Regions from separate parts of the Homo sapiens genome. Here regions 1, 3, 4, 5, 6 and 7 are each linked to region 2. Evidence: fine-mapped expression QTL. A gene starts in region 2. Each other region holds a variant in brackets. All regions are shown on one strand. Distances are between the middles of the regions.

What was found. PIP is the estimated chance that this variant, and not a neighbour inherited with it, causes the effect.
Region 1: its variant is fine-mapped to the expression of KNDC1 in monocytes (TOPMed, PIP above 0.99).
Region 3: its variant is fine-mapped to the expression of KNDC1 in whole blood (INTERVAL, PIP above 0.99).
Region 4: its variant is fine-mapped to the expression of KNDC1 in whole blood (TOPMed, PIP above 0.99).
Region 5: its variant is fine-mapped to the expression of KNDC1 in whole blood (TOPMed, PIP 0.93).
Region 6: its variant is fine-mapped to the expression of KNDC1 in whole blood (TOPMed, PIP above 0.99).
Region 7: its variant is fine-mapped to the expression of KNDC1 in whole blood (TOPMed, PIP above 0.99). The same link has a PIP of 0.9 or more in blood mononuclear cells.

Annotation. Positions count from the first base shown.
Region 1 is chr10:133,194,335-133,198,397 of GRCh38, forward strand. KNDC1 (kinase non-catalytic C-lobe domain containing 1) reads left to right here. Exons shown (of 30, transcript NM_152643.8): 10 at 1,329-1,487; 11 at 2,724-2,801; 12 at 3,341-3,434; 13 at 4,003-4,063. It overlaps LOC105378574 (a long non-coding RNA gene), which reads right to left and starts at 2,002. Exons shown (of 2, transcript XR_946511.3): 1 at 807-2,002; 2 at 153-667. LOC105378573 (a long non-coding RNA gene) reads right to left here. Exons shown (of 5, transcript XR_007062351.1): 5 at 2,862-2,940. The variant T/C (reference allele first, on the strand shown) is at 2,360.
Region 2 is chr10:133,158,063-133,162,125 of GRCh38, forward strand. KNDC1 (kinase non-catalytic C-lobe domain containing 1) reads left to right here and starts at 2,157. Exons shown (of 30, transcript NM_152643.8): 1 at 2,157-2,507. The coding sequence starts at 2,406. RefSeq lists enhancers at 2,528-3,117, 3,118-3,708.
Region 3 is chr10:133,516,826-133,520,888 of GRCh38, forward strand. It overlaps LOC105378575 (a long non-coding RNA gene), which reads right to left. Exons shown (of 5, transcript XR_946512.3): 2 at 2,846-4,063. Among named protein-coding and RNA genes, the nearest start is that of CYP2E1, 8.5 kb to the right of the region's middle. RefSeq lists a silencer at 3,378-3,577. The variant A/G (reference allele first, on the strand shown) is at 1,599.
Region 4 is chr10:133,200,841-133,204,903 of GRCh38, forward strand. KNDC1 (kinase non-catalytic C-lobe domain containing 1) reads left to right here. Exons shown (of 30, transcript NM_152643.8): 17 at 661-1,058. LOC105378573 (a long non-coding RNA gene) reads right to left here. Exons shown (of 5, transcript XR_007062351.1): 4 at 1-1,432. Among named protein-coding and RNA genes, the nearest start is that of UTF1, 27 kb to the right of the region's middle. RefSeq lists an enhancer at 1-255. The variant C/T (reference allele first, on the strand shown) is at 2,057.
Region 5 is chr10:133,251,621-133,255,683 of GRCh38, forward strand. No RefSeq gene overlaps it. Among named protein-coding and RNA genes, the nearest start is that of MIR202HG, 5.8 kb to the left of the region's middle. The variant A/G (reference allele first, on the strand shown) is at 1,931.
Region 6 is chr10:133,222,694-133,226,756 of GRCh38, forward strand. KNDC1 (kinase non-catalytic C-lobe domain containing 1) reads left to right here. Exons shown (of 30, transcript NM_152643.8): 30 at 1,966-3,719. The coding sequence ends at 2,197. Among named protein-coding and RNA genes, the nearest start is that of UTF1, 5.5 kb to the right of the region's middle. RefSeq lists an enhancer at 2,402-3,025. The variant C/G (reference allele first, on the strand shown) is at 1,713.
Region 7 is chr10:133,132,051-133,136,113 of GRCh38, forward strand. No RefSeq gene overlaps it. Among named protein-coding and RNA genes, the nearest start is that of KNDC1, 26 kb to the right of the region's middle. The variant C/T (reference allele first, on the strand shown) is at 1,662.

The DNA of each region.
Region 1 (4,063 bases), 36 kb after region 2:
AAAAACATATAGAACTGAGTGAAAATGAAAATGCAACATATGGCGAACCAGGATTTTTGTGCCAATGGCGATGTGCTGGCTGAGATACTGGACTATATCAGTATCAGTATTTTGCAAGCTGCTACTGTTGTGGAAACTGGGTACAAAGTACATGAGCTCTATTATTTATTAAAACTATGTACAATTATCACAAAATAAAAGGTTAATTTTTTAAAAGTGTAACAAGTGCTCAAAATGGGTGATTTCCTACTTATCTGACTCTAGTTGGCTGTTCTATGCTCGTGGGGCTGTCTGCGTCTGCTGTGCCTGGATGGGGGAGACTCTGTAAAGGGGAGCTGCCTCTTCCCAGCTCCACACTCAAGGGCACTGCATTGGTAGCCAGAAGTCAGCCACGTGGGAGTACTTACACCAGGGAAAGCAGCAAACGCTACAAATGTCTTGTTCTGTTGACTCTCTGGACTTACTGAAGTGATGGAGAACACGTGGATGATGTGATTAAACTTAAAAGTGTGTCATGTCTGTGGCCGCTCCCTTGAGAATAGCCCAAAAGGTGGAGGACATGGTCTTACGATATCAACCGCGACCATCTGATTCAGCAAAGACGTCGCTCAGAGGGGTGCCCCGAATTCCAGCATGGGTCTGTCCGGCTTCACTTCCATCTCATTTACTGAAATGAATGAAAACATCAACCAACACTCATGTCAGCAGCACTCGTGTATTGTGGTGGACTGTGGATGAACATGGGTTTCATTGATTTTTATCAATGAAAGCCTTCAGTGAGAATTGACTGGCTCTGTGGAACTTACAAAACGTGCATCAAATGGTGTGCTGTGCATCCCTTACATCAGCAACGTGCCGGATGAACTCAGTTTGCACACAGGCGGTGTGTTCGCTCGGAGAGCCAGTTGTTAGCCATGTAGCAGCACGGCACCAGTCGGGGGGCTTCCGGGAGCAGGCACCAGTCGGGGGGCTCCCGGGTCCGTGAGGTGGGGGCTATGCTGGCCAGTTCTCCTCAAACCCTCGAGCTGCTGCCTTCGTGAGGAGAGTGGAAGGTGGGAAAGTCCAGTTGAGGCTTCCAACCCTCTGGTGTTTAAAACGCGGACAGAACCATGGGGGAGAGTTCGACCTGCAGGTTCCTGGACCACGACCTGGAGGCGGATGCAGGGGTCCAGGGTGGGGCCTGATAGATGCTGAGGAGGGGTCTTGAGGAGAGCCCCTCTGTGGGGGCAGTGCCTGGGTGCCCCTCAGGGTGCCTGAGGTGGGCAGGTCTGCTGGGCACAGCAGCCCACAGCCCTGCGGTAGACACTATTCTCTCCCCACCCGCCCAGGCCTCTGTGTACTGTGTGGCCGCCGTTCTGTGGACCGCAGCCAAGTTCAGCGTCCCCCGCAACCACAAGCTGGCCCTGCCACGCAGGCTCAAGACCCTCCTCCTGGACATGGCCAGGCGCAGTGCCCCGGAGCGGCCGTCCGCGGCTGAGGCCATCAAGGTAACCACACCACAGTCATGGCCCCAGCCCAGGGTCCAAGGACTGTGGGCAGTGGCCGCCCTCGCTGAGCTGGGGGTGGAGGAGCACGGGCTGCCAGTGTCCAGGTGATGAGGCCACCAGGTCTGTTTCTAGGTCCCTGTTTCTAGACGTCGGCCTGGCCGTCGCATGGGGAAGGGAGTGGGTTTCGCGTCATGGCCACGTCCATGTGGGTGGACAGCATGGGGGTCTCTGCTGCTCCCCACCATGGCCGTTCCTCCTGCGGAGCCCGCTCTCTCCAGCTTGTCCAAGAGGCCAGGGCGGGGGCAAGGGGTGTCCTGTGGGCACGTGCAGACCCCTGCTCTTAGGCCCTGCTGGAGGGGAGCAGAGAGAGGCCTCCACACCTCACCCCCCACCCCGAACCCCCACCTCCTCTGAGGATCCCACCAGCCCCGCCCCTCCCTGCCTGGTCTCCCTGCTGGACTCAAGCTTTGGGGCTGGGTTCTAACGTACTCCTGCTGGGACCTGCACCCGCACCCGGCATGGGGACCAGCGGGTGGACCAGCAGGTGGGGCAGGAGCCAAACTCTCATGTGTCAGTGATCAGGAGGACCTCCTGGGGAGGAGCCGAGCTGGGTGTGGGTGATCAGGAGGACCTCCTGGGGAGGAGCCGTGTCTGGGGGAGCGGAGACGGCCATGGGGTTGGGGACCTGGGTCCAGCCGTCTCCGCCTCGACTGCTCTGTGGTCTTGGGCGGGTTGCTCAGACCCTGTGGGCCTCTCAGGCCTCCTCTGCTGCAGGAGGATGAGATCTAGACACGGCTGGGCGTCTGCCAAGCAGTGAAAGCAGATTTTATTCAGTAACTACTGAGAGCTGGGGAAGCTGAGCTCAGTTCCCA[T/C]GTGCACAAGGCCTGAGCTTATAAAGGGAGGACAGGAGTGGCCGGGGGCAGGGAGCGTGGGGCTCAGGCGAACGTGACCAAGGGCTGCCAGTGTCCAGGCGACGAGGCTACCAGGTCTGTGGCCAACGCTGGGTTTGGGATTCTGCCCTCCCAGGGAGCCTGGGGGACAGTGGCCGACTGTGAGCCCTTTTCAGGAAATGCTCTAAGAAAGGCTTGTCCGGGGCCTGTAGTTGGGTGTCGGTGAGAACAAACAGGAAACCCTCCTGGCAGCCCTGAGCTTTTTCAGATGGGGACCCAGTGACACGGGGACGGTGCAGCCGTGGCTGAGGCCTGTCGGGACGTGTGAACTGTCTCCTCCCTCCAGGTGTGCGGCAGCTACCTCCTCCAGCGAGGCATGGACAGCCGGAAAATCCTTGCCCACCTCAGAGCTTCCATCTGCCAGGTGGGCTAGAACAGCCAGGCCGCCGCCTCCTCCGCCGCGCTTAGCTTCCTCCCTCCTGGACGCACTTGCCCTTGCCTGGCCGCTCCCGGCAGCCCCACACCCCGGTCTCTGTTGACCACCGAGCTGTGGGTGGGTGCATCTGGGGGTGCAGGGGGACACTCGAGTCCCATCTAAAGGCCCCACAGTGGCCCCCAGGGACCCAGATCAGGATCAGGGCAGGGTCCCAAGGACGGCGGCCCAGCACCCACCCCGGGCGCAGAGAGCTTTGGGAGTGTGGGCCCTGAGTCTCGGGTGGTGCTGGCGTCTCCCACTCCCTGGAACCCACGGAAACCTGGTTGGCTTGGGAGGCAAAGGAGCCCCAACGGCTCCCTCTCCAGGCAGAGCCGCTGCAGAGCTTGGGCCGTGTGGCCGCCATGCCCGGCTCCTCCCCAGCAGGAAGCTCCACGGCACCGGCGGGTGGTGGGGGACGCCCTGTGGGTGTTGCCGGCGCTGGCGGAGCTCCGTGGTCACCTGGCCCAGGGCTGTCACCTCCTCCCCAGGTGTACCAGGAGGAAGAGACCATCAGCCTCCAAAACGCCTTCTCAGTGGTTGAACTGAAGCCCAGTGTGGCACCAGCCCCAGAGCCCAGCCCAGGTGGGGACCTGACCAGCCCCTGCTGCCCCACCAGCTCCTGCACCTGACACCACAGCTGCCCCCACCTCTGCATGGACAGACACAGCCGGGCACCTCTCGGAAACCCGGGAAGCAAGTCCAGAGCTCGGCCAACGTGGCCCATGCAGCCCAGCCTGCCTGCCCCTGCCAGCCCCCATCTCCCAAAACTCCCAGTCGCTCAGGCCCCAGCTCCAGGTTCTCACTCCCATCTCCCAGCAGCTGGCCCTCCCAAGCCCACATCTGGAGACCCCCAGAGTCCACACAGAGCCCACCCCACCCCCGTACTGAGCCCTGCTCAGCAGGCCCCTCCAAGGCTTCTGGTGGGGCCTGGTCTTGCTGGCCCGTCCCCGCCTGCTGGCCCTCCCCCAAGCACCAGTCTCACCCACCCTCCCATTCCAGGGCCCAGCACAGAGGAAGCCCCCAGGGCCATGCGGGAGGGGACGCGGCACCACGCACTGGGTGGGATGAGCACTGGGTGGGATGAGCCGGTGGTGCGGCACGTGCTGGGGCCACTCCGCCCGCCCACACCCTCAGCCCCCTGGCTCCCCAGGCTTCCTGCCGGTGAACAGCGACACCGGGCTTGTGGCTGTGCCAGGGCCCGTGCCCGGCCA
Region 2 (4,063 bases):
GTCATGGCCCTGGACCACGGACCTGATCGTGCAGCTGGGAAGCCCCTCAGAATTCCGACACCACCACAAGCATCCTCGGGAGGAAGCTGTGCCAGCACATGCTGGGCACACAGGGCTGGCACCGAGAGGCAGGAGGGCTTGATGAGGAGGCCGTTCCTTGTGGCTCACGGAGGGCTCTTGGCCGTTTCCGCGTGGCACCCAGAAGCTGCTCACCAGCTCTAGAAGACGTGGGGCGATGAATCCAGACCCTGGAGGAACTGCGCCCTCGTCCAGCATAACTGAGGTGCCAGGACACAGGACCGACATCGCACCCTCCACTTGGGTCAAAGCTTTATCACTGCAGGCGAGTGTGCGGGCGCCCGGGACAACTCGCAAAACGTCTGGAAGTTCCCACCACTCCCCAGAACAACAGAGACCAAAGCCCACAAATCTTTAAAGGAAAGCAGCAGGTGCGTAAAAGAAAGAGCCTGCGGCCCCTGCCCGAGGCCCCTCCCCACGTGCCCAGCCCTGAGCAGCAGCAGCGCTGAGTGACCCAGGTGTGGGAAATGCCTGCTGAGGGGTTTTAGGCCGCAACAGCCGAAGCTGACACGGCCGACTCCAGGAGCCTGTGAGTTCTGCATTTTACCAACCGCATGCACGTCTTTCCAGGAGTGCTTGCCCTATGGCTGCCCCCCAAATTATGGGGTTACCTTTGCCCCCTATTCAGTGTCTATATCCTCACCCCAAGCCCGTGAGGTGACCTGGGCACTCGGTGACAAAGTCCTGTGCTTGTGGGGTCCCTGGTGCCTTCCCTTTGGGGTCACGTCAGCCCGGCGTTCCCCCGGAGGCACAAGTCTGGGTGGCAGCTGAGAGGCGTCAGGGGCACATCCAGACCTGACAAAGGAGGCGGCCCCAGCCCTGCAGCAGAGGGCCCAGGAGCCCAGGGGCTCAGCTCCAATGTCCAGGTCTGAGCACCAGGGTGCAGCGGGATCAGGCTCCTGGAGCAGAGTCTGCCTGCCACTTCCGCCTCCTTCCAAGACAGGGACTGGGGCGCTGCAGGCCCTGTGGGGCCCACAGAGAGAGAGCTCAGGGACAGCTGGCTGAGGCCACCCTCTGTGAGACTCCTCCTCTCCAGCTCCAGCCCACTCCACCTTGGCTTGCTGCCCAAGCTTCCAAACACCCAAGGATGGGGGAGGCTGCACCTGACTGCTGACTCGGTGGACCAGGGTGGGCCCCAGGGTGGGCATTTTCAATAAGGTGGGGCTGCCTGGCTGGACGCAGGGAGTCTGCCCAGCACCTGCCCCACTCCCAGCCTCCGGCTTCAGTGCCCACCTGGCTCCCGGGGAGCTGAGCCCCTGAACTCCCTGCCAGGCCAGAGTGACAGCCCGGGTGACCGACCAGGGGACAGAGTGCTGGGAATTCACGTCCCTGAACACACTGCACCCTCCCACTCTGCGGTCAAAAGCCCTGCTGCTCCTTCAAGCCAGGAGCATGGATTAAGTACCTACTGTGTGCCTGGCCAGCCACACGGACGGGGAGCTGACAGCCGGGCCCTGAAGCCGCCCTCTCTCCTGTGGGAGTTCTGGGGGTGGCCGGGGAAGGTGAGATTCTCCTCCACCCTCCCTGCCTCTTGGCCGAGCTTGGGGCTATCCTGGCTCTTCTGACCGCGGCACTACCGTGGGCCGGGGTCACCCTGGCGCTGAAGAAAGCCCCGGGGGGCCTTTGGGGCAGGAAGAGGTCAAGAGCCCCAGGACCCCCCAGGGTCCCCCAGGACCGGGGAGGGTCGGGTGCCCAGTGGGTCTCTCCGATGCCTCCAGGTGGGGATGAGGCAGCGTTATTGCCCCACCCCCAACATCCCCGGGCCTCCGAAAGACCCTCGCTCAGGAGAGACCCCGGCCCAGCGACCGCCCCGCCCCCCACCCCGGGCCCCGCCCCCCACCCCGGGCCCCGCCCGGCCCTGCCCAACGCCGCTGCAGAGGCCACCCCGGGACTGCGGCAGCCCCGCCCGGCAGCAGCGGGGGTGGGACGGGGGCGGCGGGAGCCGGCGAGGGGGTCTGCCCGTCCGAGCTTTCCTGGGCGCCGGCTCCGCCCCTCGACCCTTGGGGCCCAGGTGGGGCGCAGACCCCGTGGCTCCCCGCGGAGGCCACACGCCTGGCTCCGCCCCCGGTGCCTCCCCCAGGAAGGAGCGACGTTCCCTAGGCGCCGGGTCCGGACAGCGCCGCGCAGCCCCCGCGCACCCCGCGCCCCCCGCGCCCCCCGGGCCCGCCCCGTATCCCTGACCGCGTCCCCTGGAGACACTGCGGCAGCGGCGGGCGGGCGGGGGCGGGCGAGGGCCGGGCGCGTCTCCATGGAGCCAGGGCGCGCGTAGCCGAGCCCAGCCCAGCCCAGCCGGAGGCCCCGGGGGCGGTGCGCGGCGCGGCCGCAGGATGCAGGCCATGGACCCGGCCGCGGCGGATCTTTACGAGGAGGACGGCAAAGACCTGGACTTCTACGACTTCGAGCCGCTGCCCACCCTCCCCGAGGACGAGGTGAGCCCCCGGCCCCACTGGGGGGCCCCTTCCGCCGCCGAGGGGTCCGCGGAGAGCGCCCGGGGGGAGGACCCGGGAGGGGCTGTGAGCTCCCGCCTCCCCAGGCGCCCTCCATGGCCGAGGGGTTCCCACCGCCGTTCTCAGCCCCCGCGTTAGGATTTTCACCCGGAGGGGACAGCACCCCCGAATGCGCACGGGACGGCGGCGGGTGGGCAGCCCCTGCAGAAGTTGGTGCGCGGTAGCTCCTGGTGGAAACCCTGGCGGGACAGTGTGGGGGCAGCAAGGAGGACGGAGGGGGGTCTGCTTACTCCCTGCCGGGCCCCAGGAGGCCAGCGGGGTGCAGAGCAGCAGAGTCCAATCAGGCGCCGCTCAGGAGCTGGGGGATGAGGTCCCCGGAGCTGAGGTTCAGGAGCGGGGGGTGGGGGGAGCGCTGGATGACTGCCCCCCGAGACTGAGAGCTGCTTCCTGCTCTCTGGTTTTCCGGGCCTTCACCCAAGACCCCCCTACCCCGCAAGGTGCAGAGGGGCTCTGCCTGCCATCTGCATACCCTGGCGCTTCTGCTCATGGACCGCCCACCCTACAGCACCGGCTGCCCAGACGCCACCTTGGCTGGGTCTGACCCTGTAGCTCAGCTCTGGCTTGGCTGGGATGGAGTGGACAAGCCAGGCCCGGAAGCATGAGAGGTGGCCCCCAGGGGATACAGCAGCTCCCAGAGGGACCCTCACCCTCCAGGGATCCGAGATCTGCCAAACCTCCAACAGGCAAGAGCCCAGACGCTGGGCGCCTGCGTCTCCGGGTGACAGCGTCGTCACCTGCAGCCATTAGTGGGATGTTGTGGCGCCCTCTCTTTAAAGCCGGCCAAGTAAGCCTGGAGCAGGGAATCCCGGCTGCAGCAGCCGCGGGCCTGACCCCCTCGCAGTCCCCACCTGCTGCCCCAGGGGAGTGGGCTCTGAAGGGACCGGGAGTTTCTGCTGTGGAAGCACCGTCCTTCTGGGAAGGTTCAGCCCCAGGAGGCCCTCGGCCCAGCCACCTAGAAACAGCTGAGGCTGTGCGGGGGTTGGCGATGCCCCCGCCCCCACCATGGCCTGGATTCGGTGCAGTTGAAGGCTGCAGAGAGGAGCAGCCAGGGGAGGCAATAAAGCTTCCAAGATCACCTCGGCTCTGACCGAGAGGGAGGGGCAGCCCGCAGCCTTCAGAAACGCCCCAGGACACATCCCAGGGTATCTGTTAGGAGGCGGCCCTGAGGACGCAGCTCTTCCCACAGCTCCTTCGTGCATCAGAGGCCTGAGCCTTGAGGGCCTCCCCGCTCCGCACACGGAGGCAGCAGCCGGTGCCACGCACACAACACGCCGCGCCAGGCGCGAGCCCACTTGGAGCCACAGGCTGTCTTTCTGCACACTCCCCACTCCCGCTCCCCACCCCCACGCACACACCAGTGTCCTCGGGCCGGCCGGACAGCTCCCGGCCGGCACAGTACTGGGGTGGGTGGCTCCATCCTGTGACGTCCACCAAGGCCTCCAGGTGAACTGTCATCCCACCGAGTTTGCAGCGTGCAG
Region 3 (4,063 bases), 360 kb after region 2:
AAACTAAGCAGCATACTGGACCCAAAGAAGGGCAGAAATCATGAAATACAAAATAATGAGGAAATAGAGAGGAACACAACCAAGGCTTGCTATTTGAAAAAGATTAATAAAGTAGAGAAACTGCTTCTGAGACTACTTAAGCACAAAAAAGCACAAATAAACAATGTTTGGGATGTCAAAGGAACATAATGATAAATACAACCATGACTGTAAACATAAGACAATACTAAAACAAATTTATGTGAATAAATTTGACAGCTTACAAGAAATCACAATTCCTAGAAAAAATGTAGTTTTCGTAATCAATTCAAGAAGTGTAGAGCCTGACCAGTTATGCTACTCTTAAATACATTGAATTATTAATTCTAAATGTTTTCACAAGTAAAAATACCATATGGTTTCAAAAGTGAGTTCTTCTAAAGCTGTTAGATCATTTCAATCTTACATAAACTCTTCAAAAGGATCAAATATGAATGAATGGTCATCAAATCATTCTTTGGAGCCTGGATAATTTTGATATTCAACACAGAGAAAGACAGAAGAGAAAACTATGGGCCAGCCTCATACTGAACATAGATGCAAAAATCCAAAACAACCTGTGAGTAAACCAAATGCAGCTGCCAGCCAGCCCTTCCTCTGGGTGCAAATCCGTCAATACATTAAAAAGACAAACTGTCAGGACCAAACTGTGTTTATTCCATACATTTATTCACCACTTTCACAAATTAAAGGGGAAAATCATCTGAACATTTCAAAAGAAGCATTTAATACAATTCAACATCTATTATTAACTTAAAAATTCTTAGTAGACTAGAAATAAAAGGTAATTTCCTTAAACTCAAAAAGTATACCTATCAAAACCTTACAATAAACATCATTCATAAAGGGGCAATGGCTACTGAGCGTCCTCTTAGAGAACTTCTGAGATGTTTCCCATTAAAATAAAAATCAAGGCAACAGTGTACTGAGGATCTGTTTGTGCAATAAGACAAGAAAAAGAAATTACAGGAATAAGGATTGAAAGATATAAAGCAAAACTCTCATTGGTCACAGACGACAGGATGGTCTACTGAGAAACCACAAAAGAATCTGCACAGAAATTATTGGAAATAAGAGAGTTTAGGAAGGGGGCTGCCTCTAGGATCAATAAGCAAAAATCATTTGTATTGCTATACACTAGCAATAAATAGTTGGAAAACATAATTTATCAAGAACTCTGCTTAGAAAACTCAACGTTAACTAAGAGTAAGGTTAACAAAAATGTGTACAATTTACATGCGGAAAATTATAAAATTTATTGAAAACATTTTAAAATGGCCTAAATAAATGGAAACAGATTCCACATCATGGATAGGAAAAATCAGTATTTTAAAGATATTTAATTCACAGAGTTTATGTGATTCTAATCAAAATCTCAAAAGACTTTTTGAGGAAATTTAACTAACTGAGTCTTAAAATTTGTATGCAAGGCACTCTTGAAATAAAAAACGGTGGTGGGACTCGAGGTATTGCTCCTCACAAGAGGGCATTAGCTGCAGGGGTGTGCCTGCAGACCCTGACCCAAACGATGGATGAATACAACGTACACTGACACAGAG[A/G]TATTCTGCTTTGCCAGTCCAGCTCGGTGTCCGACAGCCTACACACCAAGAGAGGTTTGTCACTGTGGCTGGCTCTGAGCAGCTTGCACTTCAGGCATTTATTTAGTATACGCTTAACAACAGAAGCTCTGAGTCAACACACTTGTGGATAATTAACATGGTTAAGACGGTAGTTCTATGAATGATTAAAGCTCAGGTACCACGGTTTAAATACCATTAGGGGGCAATTTCCCTGGTCAACCTCCTCCGCACCAAGAGGGCCATCTGGCTCAAAGGTTAGTTAATGGAGGTAGGGTAAACAGACTTAACTGGGGAAGCCTCTATTGTCCCTAGTATTTACCCTATGACCTAATGCTCTAAGGTAAGAACCCGCTGCCTTCAGCCTGTTCAATTATTACAAGCTATGTAACCTTTCAGCCTTCCAAAAAGGTTTGTGACTATTCCCTATAACTTTCCCTAATATGTCCCTTTAATATTTCTGCCACCATCCTGAGTGAATCACCACAGGACTTGCACTATTTGATATCAATACTACTATAAAGCTATAATAATTAAAATGCTATGGCATTGGACCAGGGAGAGACAGGCCTCTGATGCATTCCCTGTGTAAGAACTTTGTCTTGTTTTGGAAGATGATTTGGGGATCAGAGACAGGATCCTGGGACAATTCATATCTATATGGGAAAACAAACTTCCTTAGTCCTTACTATGTACAAAAATAAATTCTACATAGATTTAGGGCATAAATGGGAACAGTAAAACCTTATAAATAAGCAGTTATCTTTATCATCTTTCTGGCTAGGAAAGGATTTTTCTTTTTGAGACATGGTCTCACTCCAACACCCAGGCTGGAAGAAGGGATTTTTTTAAGCTCAGAAAGTGCTAATCCAAAAATGCAAGACTGATAACTTGAGAACATCTGTTGATAAAAAGAATGCCATAAATAGTATAGAAAAGTAACCTAAAGAATGGAAAAAATTATTGCAACACATAGAACTGAGGACGGATCAGAATAAAGCATTCCTGCAAACAATGAGAGACCAAAACCCCAAGGGAAGAGGAGAGCAAAATACATAAAATACTTGAGTAGGCATTTCAGAGAAAAGTATGTATAATTTTGACAAGACAGAGATAGGGAGAGAAAGTTTCTCTACTTTATAATCAGGGAAATGCAAAATGGGACCACAGTTAAATATCATTTTATATTGACTAAATCGGAAAATATTAAGAAATTTATTAGTACATACTGTTGGGAATAACAGGAACACTTAGACACCACTGGACGCAGGTAAATGGTTCAAATACTTGGAAAACAATCTGGTTCCATGTATATTAGGTTGCCCAGGTATACACTTGGCCTAGAGATATTCTTACACAGTGCTCCAGGAATCATGTTCAAAAATGTTCCTAGTCTGCAGTAGCAAAACCTTGGGAATAATCGGACAGGACAGTGGTTAAACAAAGTGCCACATATTCGTATCTGTGGAGTCACAAAGTCGAGGAACTGCAGCAACACCTCACTACGTGGTAACGAAAAACGATGAGCAAAAAAATTCAAGCCTCCGGGAATATAAATGTTATGAAATCCCTTTAAAAATCCAATTACACAGTATAAAAAAGAAAATCACAGGGAACATTCAAAGCAAAATTCGGGACAGCGGCTACCTCTGGAGGGAGGCAGTTGGATGTGCGAGCTTCTGGTAGACGCAGCTTGAATGAGATGTTGTTTGGGGTTGGGAGTGGGCTGCCTGGGGTTCATACGTCACCACACTTGATAATTTACAGAAGCCTTTCACGCGTTTTTTCCTGTGTCTCAAACGGGGTACCAGGAGGCTCAGGGAAACAGCGCAGGCGCCTCCCCGGTGGCTTCTCTCTGGCGCCCTCTGGTGGGCGGGGCCCGGGTGAGCGGGGTCCCCTCGGGGCCTCAGGGAGCCGCAGCCCCAGCGGAACCAGGAGGGCGCCCTCCGCCCAGCCGCGCTGCCACTTCCGGGTTGTTTGCTCCCGGAGCCATAACCGCAGCTCAGCGTGCGGGCAGAGCCGGCTGACAGGAGACAGGACACAGCACAGAGCCCCGCGCCCTCTGAGGCGGGAGGCTTCGTTCCTGCACCAGCGTGGCTTGCCCTTTGGACGCGGCGAGGTTGTGTGTTCTCTGCTTTTGTTTTACTTGGAACAGATGTTTGGCTTTTGTCAAGGTCGTTATTTCCAGTGAAGTATGGCATCGAACATCAGATAGTTGCCCACACAAATGTCTGTTTTAAGGTTCTCAACCTTTTGACAATACAAAACAAGAGGAAGTTTCCAGGGGAAAGCCCTCAAATCAGCCATTCTGAGCATGTTTTCAGCCCCATCCGTACTCTCCTCCCTTCTTATCCAGAGCCTTTTGGGTGCCCAGAAGAGTAATATTCTTCTGCCTCGTAGCTCTGTGGTCCAAGGGTTTATGGCTACTGATTATCCTCCTAGAGCAC
Region 4 (4,063 bases), 43 kb after region 2:
GCTTTGGTGACAAGGCAGAAGTGGGCTTGTTAGCCCCAGGATCCCAGGGCACATGAGTGCCAGGCTGGGGACGTCCCAGCGTCCAGCCAGCAGGCTTGGTGTTAGGGACAAGGTGGGGGTGGTGGTCACCCTCAGGCTGTCCGTAGTCGTGGCCAGGCTTGGTGACGGGCCCAGTTCCTATCAAGTCGGAGACCAGGCGGGCAGGCTGGGGCATGAGGCCCGTGCACTCCTGGATGGCAGGAAAGCCCTGCACAGGGGAAGCTCCCGCAGGGACAGAGCTGGGGACCACTTTTTAAATTCCAGAAGAAAAGAGGAGAGCGTGAGGGGGCAGAGGGACACAGTCCTGATAGCAGAGCCAGCGAGGACAGGGCCCGGCCCCACCCCGGGGCGAGTACGAGTTTGGAAGCAGTGAGGGCGCAGAGTGGGGCTCCATCTGGGGAGAGGCCTCTCTCTGTCACCCGGCCCCGTGCGGCAGTTCAGGGTCCCAGCATCTCCCCTGCACTGGGAGGCGGCAGCCGTGCCCGGGGGGCGCCCGTGGTGGGCGGGTGCAAGAGAGAAGGGCGTCGGGTGTGCAAGCACCACCGGCCTCCCATTAACAGCCTGCCCGGGCTCCGCCCACAGGAGCCACTGTCCACGTAACCTGCGTCTCTTTCTTTCAAGGAAAAGAGAAGCCAGCCATGGCCAGGACCAGCAGCAGGGCCCCCTGCTCACCCACCTCGGTGTCGGATGTGGACTCGGACGCACTGTCACGGGGAAACTTCGAGGTGGGGTTTCGGCCTCAGAGGTCCGTAAAAGCCGAGAGAGCGCAGCAGCCTGAGGCTGGCGAGGACAGACGGCCAGCTGGCGGGGCCTCAGACGTGGAGGCAGTGACCCGACTGGCCAGGTCCAAAGGGGTCGGCCCAGCCTTGTCCCCCGGCCCAGCCGGATTCCAGAGCTGCAGCCCCGGCTGGTGCAGCGCCTTCTACGAGGCCGACTGCTTCGGGGCCGACGTCCACAACTACGTGAAGGACCTGGGGCGGCAGCAGGCGGACGGGGCCCTGCCCGACGCCCAGAGCCCGGTGAGTCCCAGGCCTTGGCACTGCCGGGTGGGGCAGGGCGTCTCCTTCCAGCAGAGCTTCCTGGTCACTGCAGGTGACAGATGGCACCGTGTGCCCAGAGCCCCCAACAGGGTGACACTGGTCCTGGTGCCCCCACCCCGTGGCTGTCAAGATGGTCAGGGCCCCCTCCCTGGGCTGAGCTCCACGTCTAGGGACAGGCTCGTCTGCACTGGTGCTCCTGGTGGCTCCACGTCTGAGGACAGGGAAGGGCTTTTCTCTCATGGTCGCCCGGGCGATGGGTTCACAGGAGGCCCCTCCATGCTCGTGACCAGGTTGCGTTCGGTCGTGTTTTCCGTGGGGCAGGCACAGCCTCCGGGCCCTTGGGCAGCCTCGCTCTGCAGTGAAAGAAAACACCAAAAACGCCTGCCCAGCAAGTCTAGACTGGGCCTGGTCGCTGCAGCCTGGTCCGGGCTTTCTGGCCAGCAGTGCCATCCTGGGTCAGGAGCAGCTGCAACTCCTCCCTGGCCAGCAGGGAGAGGAGGTCTTAGACCGGGGAGTCCTGGGTGCAGGAGAGGCCTGCAGAGCTCTGGACGCAAGGTGGGACCAGTGACCCACAGCCCCGACCTGGGCTGCATTCTCGAGAGCCCCGGGACTCCAGGGTGGATGACAGGAGGGGCCCAGTGGCCATCAGCTCCGGGAACCTCTCCTACCACCGTCTGCCTCGAGCTGAGCCACCGTGGGAAGCCTCCCCCAGCCTCTGGGCATCGGAGCCCTTCCTGGGGCTCCTCCTTGCTCCTCTCCTGCCGCCTCCTGGCCTGCACTTTATGACTCAGTCCAGAACATGACCCGGTGTCCCTTCAGGGCAGGTGAGGGGACAGGGGTTAAGCTCTGTGAAGCCTTCACTTCATTTCAGCTTCTGGGCCACGTGAAAGACCCGCATGGTGCTACAGCCTCTGCACCTGCATCTCGGACACCCCACACAGGGCCTGAGGGGGCTTCGAGGACGCAAAGGCCGCCCC[C/T]GGGGCTGGGGAGAGAAAAGGGCGGCCGGCACAGCAAACACCAAACGACCCGGCCCCCAAACGCAGGGAGTCCAGCAGGGAGCACTCAGCCCCCAAACTCACGGCGTCCAGCCGGGAGCACTCCGCCCCCAAACGCATGGCGTCCAGCGGGGAGCACTCGGCCCCCAAACTGGCAGAGTCCAGCGGGGAGCACTCCACCCCCAAACGCACGGCGTCCAGCGGGGAGCACTCGGCCCCCAAACGCACGGCGTCCAGCGGGGAGCACTCGGCCCCCAAACGCACAGAGTCCAGCGGGGAGCACTCGGCCCCCAAACGCACGGCGTCCAGTGGGGAGCACTCGGCCCCCAAACGCACAGAGTCCAGCGGGGAGCACTCGGCCCCCAAACTCACGGCGTCCAGCGGGGAGCACTCGGCCCCCAAACTCATGGTGTCCAGCAGGGAGCACTCGGCCCCCAAACACACAGCGTCCGGCCCATGGCCACAGCCTCACGTTTCTCTTGGAGGAGCTACTGTGTCTCTTTCAAAACAGGAGGCTCAGAAACACAGCAAGGGCAAAAACCACCTGGAGACAGACTTTCACATCCGCAGCCCAAAACGCACACGGTGCAGCGAGGGCCGTTCTCTGGGGCGGCTGGAGCAGCCGGTGGGCATTTCCTCCCTTCAGCGCTGACCCCCACCTACTGGTGCCGGCCGTGTGTGCTGGGCTCAGCACTGCGGGTGCCCTGGGGCTGTGGAGCTGGCATCCGCGTCTCCTGCTGTTAAAACAAGCGTGGCTCCCAGAGTCAGCGTGGACAGCACTGGTGTGGGTTCCTCCCCCGTCTGTCTGCACCGGTGAAGCCTGGCCTCGTGTTTCCCTCCTCACTGCCCCACATGTGGTGTGGATTTTAGTTACCGTGGATTTATTAAAATCAGTCAAGACCGTCCTCCTCATGGAGTCCGCCTGTGGTTCCCGCGTGAGGAGCGCCCCCGACGGACATCGAGTCTGACTGTGAACGGAGGCCGTGGAGGTGCCGGCCAGAGAGGAGTCTGCGTGAGCTGCACTCCAGCCAGGCGGGCATCGGGCTCGCAGGCACCCGCCTCCAGGTTCCTGGATGCGTCAGGGTACACAGACCTTTCCCAGGAGATTTTCTCGACATCAGCACCTCTGCAAATGGATGGGGGTGAGAGGGCTGGATGGAGCCTGGCGCCGGTGACCTCCGGGGGCCGGACGAGGGCCCCATGGTGCAGGCCATGGGGGAACGTGGCCACCACCATCCTCAGAAGCCAGGACCAGGTGCCCCGGCAGCAGAACACAGCTCCATGGGGACACCTGCGTTTACCAACCTCAACCTGCCCAGCCCGGTAGGTCCTTCCTTGATGATGGAATGTTCTAGACGCTGTCCACCGGGTAGCCAACAGCCACGTGTGGCTACTGAGCTCTGGAAACATGGCCCACGTGACTGAGGACCTGATGTTTTAATTTCACTGCACTTTAGGCAGCCACGGCAGCCTGCAGCTCAGTGTGGGAGGCAGGGTCGCACTTGGCTGGGTGGCAGCGGGGTCCGGAGGGCTTGGGGAACCTGGCTTAGTGGCCGAGGTTCTGCAGAGGCCTGGTCTTTACGCAGCTGGGACACTGCCCACACTGCCGTAGCGGGGAGCCTGGCCCTCCGTGGCACCGCCACGGCCGCTGCTGAACCCGTGCGTGGGAGAAGACAGCACAGGGACCCCGTCTCCATGGAACCACCAGATAGAGCGGATTCAAGTAGTTAAATAGAAATGTCGCCTGCATTTTTTTATTTTGCAAAAAACATTCAAAAATAAACCCTGTCAATAGCAGAGTCACTGGCGGCTGACAAGGCGAGGGGGTGGCTGTGTGGATCTGAGCCAACCGCACTTCACAAAAGGAAGCCTGGTGGACCGGCTCGCGGATGAGCCCCTCGGGGCGGTCGCTTCGGGCCCTGGGCACGTGAACCCCTCACAGGAGGCTGCGGGCCGAGGGCTGCCGCGCCTCTCACCTCTGCCCCCAGC
Region 5 (4,063 bases), 94 kb after region 2:
CCCTGTGGCTCCCCAGTGCTTTGAATGAAACCCAGCCTGTGAGCAGGAGGACAGGGACCCACCTCACCCACTGGAGGCCGCACAGCCTGGCTCCCACCCATCCTGGGGACCTCCTGCCGGAGATTTGCAGAGTAGGGGTGGAAGGGCCTGAAAGCAGAGGAGCCCCACCCGGGCATCCTTCCCACCATCCCGGGGCCTCCTGCTGCACCGCCAACCCCGAGAAGGCCTCAGCAGTCCAGCCAGCACCAGCCGGGGACTGTGTCCTGGTCCTTCCCCCATCAGCAGGGGTCAGGATGACCACCTGGGCAGGGGCCCTGCTGTGGGTCCAGACACTCCCTGGGTGCCTCAGACCCCAATAGCAGCCCCTCCACACCAAACACACCGGCCACCCTCCCTCCCTCCACCAGAAACAGAAAGGATCTCTGTGGGTCTGGCAGACGTGCTTGGCACGGAGCTGGCGGTGATAACGGGTGGCCTTCAGGCGGCTCCACTCCCTCCATTCCATTCCTTGTGGGGCCCGGTGGAGGCGGGTGGCGGGGGTGTCCCTGCAGCTGTCTCTGGCCAAAGGCAGCCCACTGTTAACCCTTGGTGGACTCTCCCTGCTGAAGTTCCCAAAGAGGGTGGCCTGCTCCTCCTGCATCGCATGTGGAGACCTCAGTCTACACTGGCCACACCCTGAGGCTGGGCCCAACCCTGCCCAGCAGCCCGTCCTGCCCCACACCTCATCTTGCCCTATCCCACCCTGCACCCCACCGTGCCCCGCTCTGCACCCCGGCCCGCCCTGCACCCCATCCCTCCCTGCACCCCAGCCCGCCCTGCACCCCGCCCCACCCTGCACCCCAGCCCACCCTGCACCCCGGCCCGCCCTGCACCCTATCCCTCCCTGCACCCCAGCTCTCCCTGCACCCCGTCCTGCCCTGCACCCCGTCCTGCCCTGTACCCCATCCCTCTCTGCACCCTGTCCTGCCCTGCACCCTGTCCCACTCTGCTCCTGACCCTGCCCTGCAGCCCCCACCCCATAGGTCCAGTGTCCCGGGAGTCAGCACTTCCCTCAGGTTATGTGCTGGTCCCACCGACCCCTGAGTTGCAGGCCGGGCGATGTCAATGGCTACCCCAGAGAAGCAGCCGAGGCCTAGAGCAAAGCTGACCGCTCCTGGACTCAGTTTCCCCACCTGTCAAAGGAGGTGCTGGAAATAGAGTTCCCTCGGAGATGGACAGAGTCTTACAAATGAAACCTGTGTCCACCGTGTGACCTGGCAATTCCACTCCTAAGCATTTACAAAGAGGAATGAAATCATCCGTCCCCAGAAAGACTTCAATAAGAACATTCTGGGACGGGTGCGGTGGGTGGCTCACGCCTGTAATCCCAACACTTTGGGAGCCTGAGGCAGGAGGATTGATTGAGCCCAGGAGTTTGAGACCAGCCTGGGAAACATGGTGAGACCTTGTCTCTACAAAAAATTAAAAAATAAACTAGTTGTGTGTGGTGGATGCACCTGTGGTCCCAACTATGCGAGACTCTGAGGCGGGAGGATCATCTGACCCAGGAGTTCGAGGCTGCAGTGAGCTGTGATGGTCCAAGGCACTCCAGCCTGGGTGACAGAGCGAGGCCCTGTCTCAAAAAAAAAAAAAGAAGGCTGGGCATGGTGGCTCACGCCTGTAATCCCAGCACTTTGGGAGTCTGAGGCAGGCAGATCACCTGAGGTCGGGAGTTCGAGACCAGCCTGACAGCCTGACCAACATGGAGAAACCCCGTCTCTACTAAAAATACAAAATTAGCCAGGCGTGGTAGTGGGCACCTGTAATCCCAGCTACTCGGGAGGCTGGGGCAGGAGAATCGCTTGAAACCGGGAGACAGAGGTTGCGGTGAGCCGGGATTGCGCCATTGCACTCCAGTCTGGGTAACAAGAGTGAAACTCCATATAAAAAA[A/G]AAAAGAAGAAGAAGAGAAGGAGAAGGAGAAGGAGAAGGTCTTCAAACAGGAACCACTCCAAGTCCCCAAGTCTCCTTCATCCACACAGAAATGGATAAAAAATCATGATGACTGTACAAGAAAGAAGCAGACACACAGGGTCTCGGGCCTCCCCAGAGCAGGCCAAACCACGTGGGGTGACAGGGCCCCCCCGGTAGAATGTTCCGTGGCCTGAGGATGAGGTAGTTACGCACTGGACGCATTTGCCAGAGCCCTGGGCTTGTGCACTTGAGACTGTTTATTCCGCAAAAAATAAATAAAATAGAAATAAAACTTGGGGCTGTGCGGCGGAGCCGTGGGGGTGCCCGCTCTGCGGTGGTCGGCTGACCCTGGGATGCCCTGGTCAGAATAACACGGGGCCCAGGGTCAGATGTGCGTCTCGGAAGAACACGGACCATTTCTTAGGATAAATATGTCCCATGAAATATTTAGGATGCATTCACACTGTAAGTTTTCATTGTTTCACTGAAATTTGAATTAATTGTGTGTCCTGAATTTTTACTTGCTACGTCTGGTGGCCCCACACCGAGTTTATGGAGAGGGCATGAGCTTGGAGCAGTGACCAGGACCCAGGTCGGTTCGTCTGTCTTCAGGGGGCTCCCGGGATCCAGGTCAGACTGAGGACCTGAGGCGTGCTGGGGCTGCCCCAGATCATGTGTGGAGGGCAGTGCAGCTGAGTGACCGGGCCCTGAGGCTCCTGAGGCTCTGGGACCCCATGGGATGTCCCCTTGGGAGCCAGGCCCTGGAATCTGTGCTCCAGGCCGGCTGTAGGGGAGATGGAGGGCTGGGCCTGTGCCCAGAGGCTGATCACCGCCTGGCTCCTGGCAGGGTCTGGGATGGTCTCAAGGGGCTGGTGGGCCAGGGGCTCAGCTGAGCCACCATAGGCAGCCCCCAGCCCCGGAGGGAGAGGGAAGCAAAGAGTTAATCCCCGGCCCTGGGAGAGCCCTGCCCTAAGCTCAGGGCTGGCGTTTCAAGGCTGCGTGTCTGTGACTCCCTCAGAGGAGATAATCACGGCTTCTTGATATTTTCTTTCTCTTCTCCTGTGCACACCCACATATCAGGAGCACTCGCTGGGCCATGAGAACTTTCCTCTGCCCTCCAAGGCCACGGCGGGCGGAAGGGGCCAAAGCCATTTTGTCCAGGAGCCTTTGTCCCCTGGGATTGCCTGGCCAGGAGCTGGGGCCACCGGGCTGGACCCCGTGTCTCATGTGCACACGTGCCACCCAACACACACACCACACATGTACACACTACACATATATATACACACCCCACACACCACACACCTACACACCACACACATACACACCACAAATACACACCCCACACACCACACATGTGCACACCACATATATATACACATCCCACCTGTACACACCACACATGTACACACCACATATATACATACCCCACACACCACACCACATGTAGACACACACCACACACATATACACGTCACATGATGTGTTTAGTACTACACACACACACCCCACACTCATACAAAGCACACTACATGCACACACACACACTTGCAGAGCCTACCCCTTTCTCCACCACCTGGGTCTGGACCCCACACTCGGCCCAGGTCCCAGTCCCAGGTCTCAAGCCCTTGTGTGGTCACTGCCGTCCGCTGCCAGGGGCTGGGGGTCTTTCTCACTGAGGACAGGGCTGAGCTCCCCCAGGCTGAGGAGGGCTCTGCCACCTCCAACCCCCGCTGAGCGGCTGCAGTCCCTGCTCAGTCTCCTTGGGTCCTTGGTGCCCCGAGCCGATGCCGGGGCTGACCCTCAGCAGCCCCAGTTAGGCTGGCCTCAGTTGGGTCTCTGCGTGTTCCTCTGGGAGCCACAAAAAGGCAGGTGAACTCGGCTCCACACTCCGCACCCAGGTCCAGCTGCCGGCACCGCTTGGTGGCCACCCAGGGCGAGGGTGGGATTACCCAGGATGCACAGCCCCTCTGCCCCGCGGTCCCGCCGCCCACCCTCCTTGACACCCCGCCACCCCTGCTTGGGCAGCCACGGGGAGCTGTTGGAGGGTGGAGTTCAGCACAGAAGGAGACAAAGACCTCCAGGGACAGATGGGGTGGGGGCCACCCTGCC
Region 6 (4,063 bases), 65 kb after region 2:
TCCAGGCATGCTCTTCCCGGCGTGTGTGTGCATGAGAGCCCATCCAGGCATGCTCTTCCCGGCGTGTGTGCGTGTGCGTGAGAGCCCATCCAGGCATGCTCTTCCCAGTGTGTGTGTGTGTGAGAGCCCATCCAGGCATGCTCTTCCCGGCGTGTGTGTGTGTGTGTGAGAGCCCATCCAGCCATGCTCTTCCCAGTGTGTGTGTGTGTGAGAGCCCATCCAGGCATGCTCTTCCCGGCGTGTGTGTGTGTGAGAGCCCATCCAGGCATGCTCTTCCCAGTGTGTGTGTGTGTGAGAGCCCATCCAGGCATGCTCTTCCCGGCGTGTGTGTGTGTGTGAGAGCCCATCCAGGCATGCTCTTCCCGGCGTGTGTGTGTGTGAGAGCCCATCCAGGCATGCTCTTCCCGGCGTGTGTGTGTGTGAGAGCCCATCCAGGCATGCTCTTCCCGGCGTGTGTGTGTGTGAGAGCCCATCCAGGCATGCTCTTCCCGGCGTGTGTGTGTGTGAGAGCCCATCCAGGCATGCTCTTCCCGGTGTGTGTGTGTGTGAGAGCCCATCCAGGCATGCTCTTCTCGGCATGTGTGTGTGTGTGTGTGTGAGAGCCCATCCAGGCATGCTGTTCCCGGCGTGTGTGTGTGTGTGTGAGAGCCCATCCAGGCATGCTCTTCTCGGCGTGTGTGTGTCTGTGAGAGCCCATCCAGGCATGCTCTTCCCGGCATGTGTGTGTGTGAGAGCCCATCCAGGCATGCTCTTCCCGGCATGTGTGTGTGTGAGAGCCCATCCAGGCATGCTCTTCCCGGCGTGTGTGTGCATGTGTGTGAGAGCCCATCCAGGCATGCTCTTCCCGGCGTGTGTGTGCGTGTGTGTGAGAGCCCATCCAGGCATGCTCTTCCCGGCGTGTGTGTGTGTGTGAGAGCCCATCCAGGCATGCTCTTCCCGGCGTGTGTCTGTGTGTGTGTGAGAGCCCATCCAGGCATGCTCTTCCCGGCATGTGTGTGTGTGAGAGCCCATCCAGGCATGCTCTTCCCGGCGTGTGTGTGTGTGTGTGAGAGCCCATCCAGGCATGCTCTTCCCGGCGTGTGTGTGTGTGTGAGAGCCCATCCAGGCATGCTCTTCCCGGCGTGTGTGTGTGTGTGAGAGCCCATCCAGGCATGCTCTTCCCGGCATGTGTGTGTGTGAGCCCATCCAGGCATGCTCTTCCCGGCGTGTGTGTGAGCCCATCCAGGCATGCTCTTCCCGGCGTGTGTGTGTGTGTGTGAGCCCATCCAGGCATGCTCTTCCCGGCGTGTGTGTGTGTGTGTGAGAGAGCCCATCCAGGCATGCTCTTCCCGGCGTGTGTGTGTGTGAGAGCCCATCCAGGCTTGGCCTTTCTTTGCCGTAATGGACGCCCCTTTCTTTGTCCCTCACACTGGGCATGTGGTGTTTCCATCCAAAATCAGGACAGGGCGTCTGTCTGTGGCATCAGTGTCCCCAGGCCTGGCTGAGGGCTCCTGCTCGTGACTGGCCAGCTTTCTCCATTATATTCTATGGTGTGCTGGTCACTGTCAACCAGCTGTCCCAGGCTTCCGGCCCTGGGCCCCGGCCGTGGCGATTCCCAGGTGTGAATGTGAACGCTCTGCACGGCAGCAGAGAGTCCCTTGCCTGCCTCGTCCTCTCAGCTGCAGCCCCTGCGGCAGACTGGGCTTGACTCTTCTTGGGACGCTCAGCAGGGA[C/G]GAGCCTGAGCCTGCAGGGTTTCCATAAGCGTGTGTGGACTGAAATGTGGATGGATGGACAGTCAGACAGACGGAAAGGTCTGAGTAGTGACCTTTCCACCTCGCCAATAAATACAGACAACCCACCCTTCAGAATTTACACGGTGAAAAGATTTAGTCCAAATGATTCCTAAGAACGCGGGGGGACTCCCTCCCCACGGAAGCCGCGCCCCTGCCCTGTGCAAACTAACGTCTCTTCTTTCCTCAACGGAAGGAACATCGCAAAGGTGGTGAGCCAGGTGCACGCGTTCCAGGAGAACCCTTACACCTTCAGCCCCGACCCCAAGCTCCAGTCGTACCTCAAGCAGAGGATTGCCCGCTTCAGCGGTGCCGACATTTCCACACTCGCCGCAGATAGCAGGGCCAACTTCCACCAGGTCTCCAGCGAGAAGCACTCACGGAAGATTCAGGACAAGCTACGGAGGATGAAGGCTACATTCCAGTAGCCGAGCTCGGGCCTGGTGTGGAATTCCAGATCCGAATCCGACTGTGGGGGGCGGGCTGGGAGGTGGGAGCCGCGTCTCAGGCCCGGCCGTTATCAAGGCCCCTCCGCCCCCGAACCCTGGGGAGCTGGACCAGGAGGTGGAGGCTCAGGGGACCCCATGGGGACAGGCAGAGCTGGTCTCCTCCCAGCAGACGGAGCCAGGACGGGCACAAGAGTCTTGGAGGTTTGCGTGTTTCTGCTAGAATTAAAAAGTTAAATTTAAAAATGAAAATGAAAGACAGCTTCCCAGGAGTTTTGTGCCTGTCTGCGCCTCTCACACACAGATAAGTGGCTCTTACCCAGCTCTCAGTGACTCCCCCACAAAACAGCAACAGCCTCCACCGCCAACTCAACAAACTTCAGAGTAGCTCCTCCCTGAGCAGGTTTCTGAGCCAGCCTGGGTTGGCTGAGCAACGAAGGGCCAAAGCTGACCTCTGAGTGGCCAACTGCAGCTCCCAGGGACTCCGAGACCTCCGGTCCGAGACCCTGCCTGGGTTCACCCCCCACAACCCAGACCCAGAACCGCTCTCCCCTTCCCTGCCCAGTGCCCCTCCTCCCCAGCCCAGACCCCCAGGTGCCCAAGGCCTGCTGCTGGAGCAGGCACCTTGGGCTGGGCCTGCTCCCCCAGGGCCCAGGGCCCCCCAGCTTAGAACAGCCCTTGGTGAGGTGGTCATGCCCGGGCAAAGGCCCTGCTTCCTGGAAAGGACACTCAGAGCAGCTCCAAGACAGAGGCTCTGTGGCGGGGGTCCCTGAGAGTGCCCCCACCCATCTCATGCCCCAGGGACCGCCACTGCCCACCGCCTCCAGCAGCCATGCATGTGCGCCCGCAGCCCTGCCTCCACAGCTCGCCACACACTCACGCTTCGCCAGAGACAGGAAGTGCGCTGCCTCCACGGCCCCTTGCCCTTGCTCAGGTTCTTGGACCCCAGGCAGCTGGTGTGGAGCCCCTTGGCCAGGGCCATGGGAGTCCCGCGCAGTCAGCTCCACATTGGCCTCTGCAGCTGGGTGACCAGAGCCCCGGGCACGGCCCCAGCTCCGTGGGGCTCTCACGGTGCCAATCACAAGACCCAGGGTTGTGCTTTTGAGTTTTAGAATTAGTCATTCTTTAGAGCAGCCAGCTAGTGGCATTTCTAGGAAAACTGTGACCTGTGACAAATCGCTGCATTTTTAATGTCAAGATGTGTTTTCCCACATAAATTCACCGGAGACATCCGGGCCCCGCTTCGATGTAACATGAGAGGAAGTCGGCGTCCTGGCCACGAAATGCAGTTCACTTTTTTTTAGGCTTTTATATGGATTATGTTTTGCTGACCCACGCCCGCATTTTCAGATTTTGTATCTAACAGACAGTGCTCAGTGCAAATCAACATTCCAGCGGTCAGGACTGACCCCGGGGCAGCACTGGGCTCAGGCTTCAGCGCGACTGTCCGCATGGCTCCCTCCCGTCCTGGCACCAATTTCTGAATAAAGTCCTTTCTACCAGCTGCTGCTGTGTGGTCACTCTGCGGGTCCCCACGGTGACCTCTGCAGGTCGACACGTTTTCCTTCATGGCCGCACGAAGGCCCCTTACAGGTGCTCACAAGGACTCCAGGTGCGAGATGTGCTCAACCCAGGACTGAAAACGAATCTGCCGGTCCACAGCGACGCCCTCTGATGCCGCAGAGAAAGGCCCGGGCCTGCCAGACGTGTGTCACAACTCAGGCCCCGCCAGGAGGAAAGCTACCGCCAGCACTCCCAGGCCGTGGGAACAAGCAAACGCACCGGCTGGGGCAGGAAACACTTGCTTCTGGTTGTGACTGCAAACAGCCTAAAAGAACGGACTCCCGT
Region 7 (4,063 bases), 26 kb before region 2:
GAGTGTGCTTGCCCGTGTGCCTGCGTGTCAGACGCACTGGAGCGTGGGTGTATGCCGGCCTGTGCGAGTGTGCCCGTGTGCCTGCGTGTCGGATGCAATGGAGCGTGCGTGCATGCCGGCCTGTGTGAGCGTGCTTGCCCGTGTGCCTGTGTGTCGGATGCAATGGAGTGTGCGTGCATGCTGGCCTGTGCGAGTGTGCCTGTGTGCCTGTGTGTGTGTGAGTCCGTGTGCCTGCGTGTCGGATGCGATGGAGTGTGCGTGTATGCTGGCCTGTGTGAGTGTGCTTGCCTGTGTGCCTGTGTGTTTGTGAGTGGCTTGTGGGTTGTGTGGGTGTTGACGTGTTAGTGTGTGAGAGTGTGCGCCTGTGTGGTGTGTAGGTCCCTCTGTGGGAGTTGTGTGCACACATGCACGTGTGCTTGAGGGTAAGTGTGCATGTGTGTGCATGCTCTTTGGAGGAACACTGTGAGGCGGCCCCTCCGCCCTGTCTCCGTGCGGGTGTGTAACTACCACACGGCAACACTGTGGTGACTTTAGTCAGCTTAAAGGACTAGGAAGCAGAAGCTGCCTGTGCCTCCAGACCCTGACAGTTCTTCTCTGGAGCAGTCCTAGCTGAGGAGGCCTCCAGTCCTGGGAGACACACAGTGGCATCTGCCGCGTCGCCCACGAAGGCCCCAGACAGGGCTCAGATCTGGTCGGCCTGCTCTGTCTCTGAATGAGCCACCCCTGCAGGGGCTTTGGGCAGCTGAGGAGCCCCCACTGGTTCTGCGGGGAAGGGGCTGGGTTGGGGCCCGCACGTTCCACCTGCCTGAGCAGGACTGAGGAGGGATGCAGGCTGAATGGGAGCACTGGGCCCCTGGGAGGGCCTTGGCAGAAGGCAGCTCAGCAGCCACACGCTAGGCTGCAGTGTCGCCCATCAGTGACAGCAGCTGCAGGAAGCCTGTCTAGGGACCCTGGAAGGAGCTCAGGGCCCTGCACTGATGTGGTGAATGCCCCCCATGTGCAGAGACTGGCTGCAACGGGCACTTCCACACCTACCCAGTGCCCAGATGGTGCCTGACCGGTCCTGCCACTTGCTCCCTGACCCTTGGTGCTTGCATTTCTCGGGGGACGCTGTCGGGACCAGCATTGGCCTGAGCTGGAACAGTGGGTGTGTTCACTGTGCGGGGACTGTGGACCCTGCTCCTCCACGTCTCACGTGGACCCTGCTCCTCCGTGTCTCACGTGGACCCTGCTCCTCCGTGTCTCACGTGGACCCTGCTCCTCCGTGTCTCACGTGGATCCTGCTCCTCTGTGTCTCACTTCATCACGCTTCCCTTCCACTGCACTGCCAGGGTTTGTACCTGAGCCTAGAGGCTTCTGCAGAGCCTTTACTGCACAGGCACCTTCGGCCAGAAATTCTGCCTGTTGTATTCAAGACCAAGGACTGTTCTGTAGCCTTTGAGGTGGGTGGGGTGGGGGTACCTTGGGCAGATGGAGGCCGGCCCTGTGTCTGCAGGGGCAGCGTGTGCCCAGGGAGGCAGGGGACGGGGTAGGGGGAGGGAAAGGGTGAGCACCCCGTGAGGACAGACAAAGTGCTGTGAGGCCAGGTCAACGGTGGGGTGGAGGCGGGGCCTGGTGGGCATCTGGGGAGGCTACTGGGCACAGGGACAGAGAAGCCAATT[C/T]GGAGGGTCCCTGGGGCCAAGTCTGAGCAGGCATCTGAGTGCTGTGGTTGTTCAGGGCAGGCGGAGCAGGAGGGGCATAGGAGGGCCTGGCACACGTGAGAGGCCTGTCCCTCGGGCCACAGCTAGAAGATCAGTGTCTCCCAGTGAGACAGGTCAGGCTGCAAGTGGGCTCAGCAGCAAGACAAGCCCTTCATGCCCGCCGTGCTGGCTCCTCTGGGCCTGGAGGGAGGGCTGCTGGGTGAGCTGGGGCCCACCAGGGCAACTCCCAACACTGGCTGTCCAGGCCTCCTGGGGGCTGCAGGGCCAGTGCCTGAGCACAGACGTGGCTGCCCACAGACGGTCCTGCAAGGACTCAGGACCCCAGACCCCAGGCTGCATCCCCCCGGCCACAGATCTGCAGGCGGCCGACTTCCAGAGGACAAGCAGCACCGCTCAGGCCCAAGTGGGCGCCGACTTGGACCTCACACCTCTGTCCTGTGTCCCAGGAAATGACTGGGGTTGCCAGGGCCTGCCTTTCCTTCCCACTCCCATCCCAGGACGTGGGTACTGGGAAAACCACTGTTAAGAGGACACTCTTAAACTCACTCTAATTACTTCTTTTCTACATAAATATCAACAACTTCCCCTGTAATCGCAACAGACACCTTGCTCCCTACTCACAACTCCAACCACACCCAACATAGCCCTTCAGGGAGGCCTGCAGGTCAGAACCGGCAGCAGAGGCACCCAGAGCTCAAGTCCCTCCCTGCCAGCCGCCCCCCAGCCTCTCCCAGACAGGGTCACTGAACAAGCCACAGAGTGGTGCAGGGCTGACATCGGCCAGGGACAAAGCAGGTGAGTACCCATGTCTGCGCCCTGGCTCAGAGATTACTCCAAGTCCAGGTCCTAGAGGGGTGAATACCCCTGGTGTGGGATTGGCTGGTTTAGTACTCATGTCTCTGTCATGGTCCAGAAAGTACCCTTGGTCTAGGTCCTAGTGGAGTGAGTACCCTGGTGAGGGATAGCCTGGGTTAGTACCCATGTCTCTGCCCTGGTTCGGAGAGTACTCGTGGCCCACGTCTTCGTGGAGTGAGGAACTCTGGCACGTAGTGCCTCCCTGTTAGGGTTAATGCTCGTATTGGATTCATAGTGAGCTGTGTTGCTGGGTAAAATACTCGAGGTGACAGTAGCAGTCTGTGCTGCTGTAGGATGAGGACACATTTTCTGGGCTACTTTCTTGGTGCCACTGGTATGGGCTGAAATTTCACCCTCCGTGTGCCCAGGTGGCGGCGGTGGTGGTGCGTTTGCATGTGGTGGGCTGGAGCTGCGCCCGTGTGTTCTTCTGTGTGTTTGGGAGGCTGAGTTCTCGTGGTCTGAGTCGTCTCAATTGAGTACTAGGTCCTGTGTCACGTGGGCTGTGTATCTGTGGTCTGTGTCTCCTGGTAAACACTGTTTAAAATGAGTTCCGGGGTCTCTGCCTCCAAGGGAGTGCGGGACGCTGGCGTGGGCTGAGCTGCCAGGGTAAAGAATCCACTGCAGCACCTGTGGCTTCAGTGCCTCGGTGGGGTGGGGCCGATGGCCTGCAGGTGAGCAGTGTTAAAGGAAACATGGTTCAATGATGCTTGTTAAAACACGGCAGACTTCATTCGGGGCCACTGGGTCCCTGGGTGTGAGACAGCCTGGGCTGGTACCATAGGGGAGCTGGTCTCCAGGTCCCTGTTGGGGGGGTCTGGTCTCTGGGTCCCTGTGGGGGGGGTCTGGTCTCTGGGTCCCTGTGGTGGGGGGGGGTCTCTGGGTCCCTGTGGGGGCGGCTGGTCTCTGGGTCCCTGTGGGGGTGTCTGGTCTCTGGGTCCCTGTGGTGGGGGGGGTCTCTGGGTCCCTGTTGGGGGGTCTGGTCTCTGGGTCCCTGTAGGGGTTCTGGTCGCTGGGTCCCTGTAGGCGGGTCTGGTCTCTGGGTCCCTGTGGGGGGGTTCTGGTCTCTGGGTCCCTGTGGTGGGGGGGGGGTCTCTGGGTCCCTGTTGGGGGGTCTGGTCTCTGGGTCCCTGTGGGGGCGGCTGGTCTCTGGGTCCCTGTGGTGGGGGGGGTCTCTGGGTCCCTGTTGGGGGGTCTGGTCTCTGGGTCCCTGTGGGGGCGGCTGGTCTCTGGGTCCCTGTGGTGGGTCTGGTCTCTGGGTCCCTGTGGGGGGGTTCTGGTCTCTGGGTCCCTGTGGGGGCAGCTGGTCTCTGGGTCCCTGTGGGGGTTTCTGGTCTCTGGGTCCCTGTGGGGGGGTCTGGTCTCTGGGTCCCTGTGGTGGGGGGGGTCTCTGGGTCCCTGTGGGGGGGTCTGGTCTCTGGGTACCTGTGGGGGCAGCTGGTCTCTGGGTCCCTGTGGGGGGGTTCTGGTCTCTGGGTCCCTGTGGGGGCGGCTTGTCTCTGGGTCTCTGT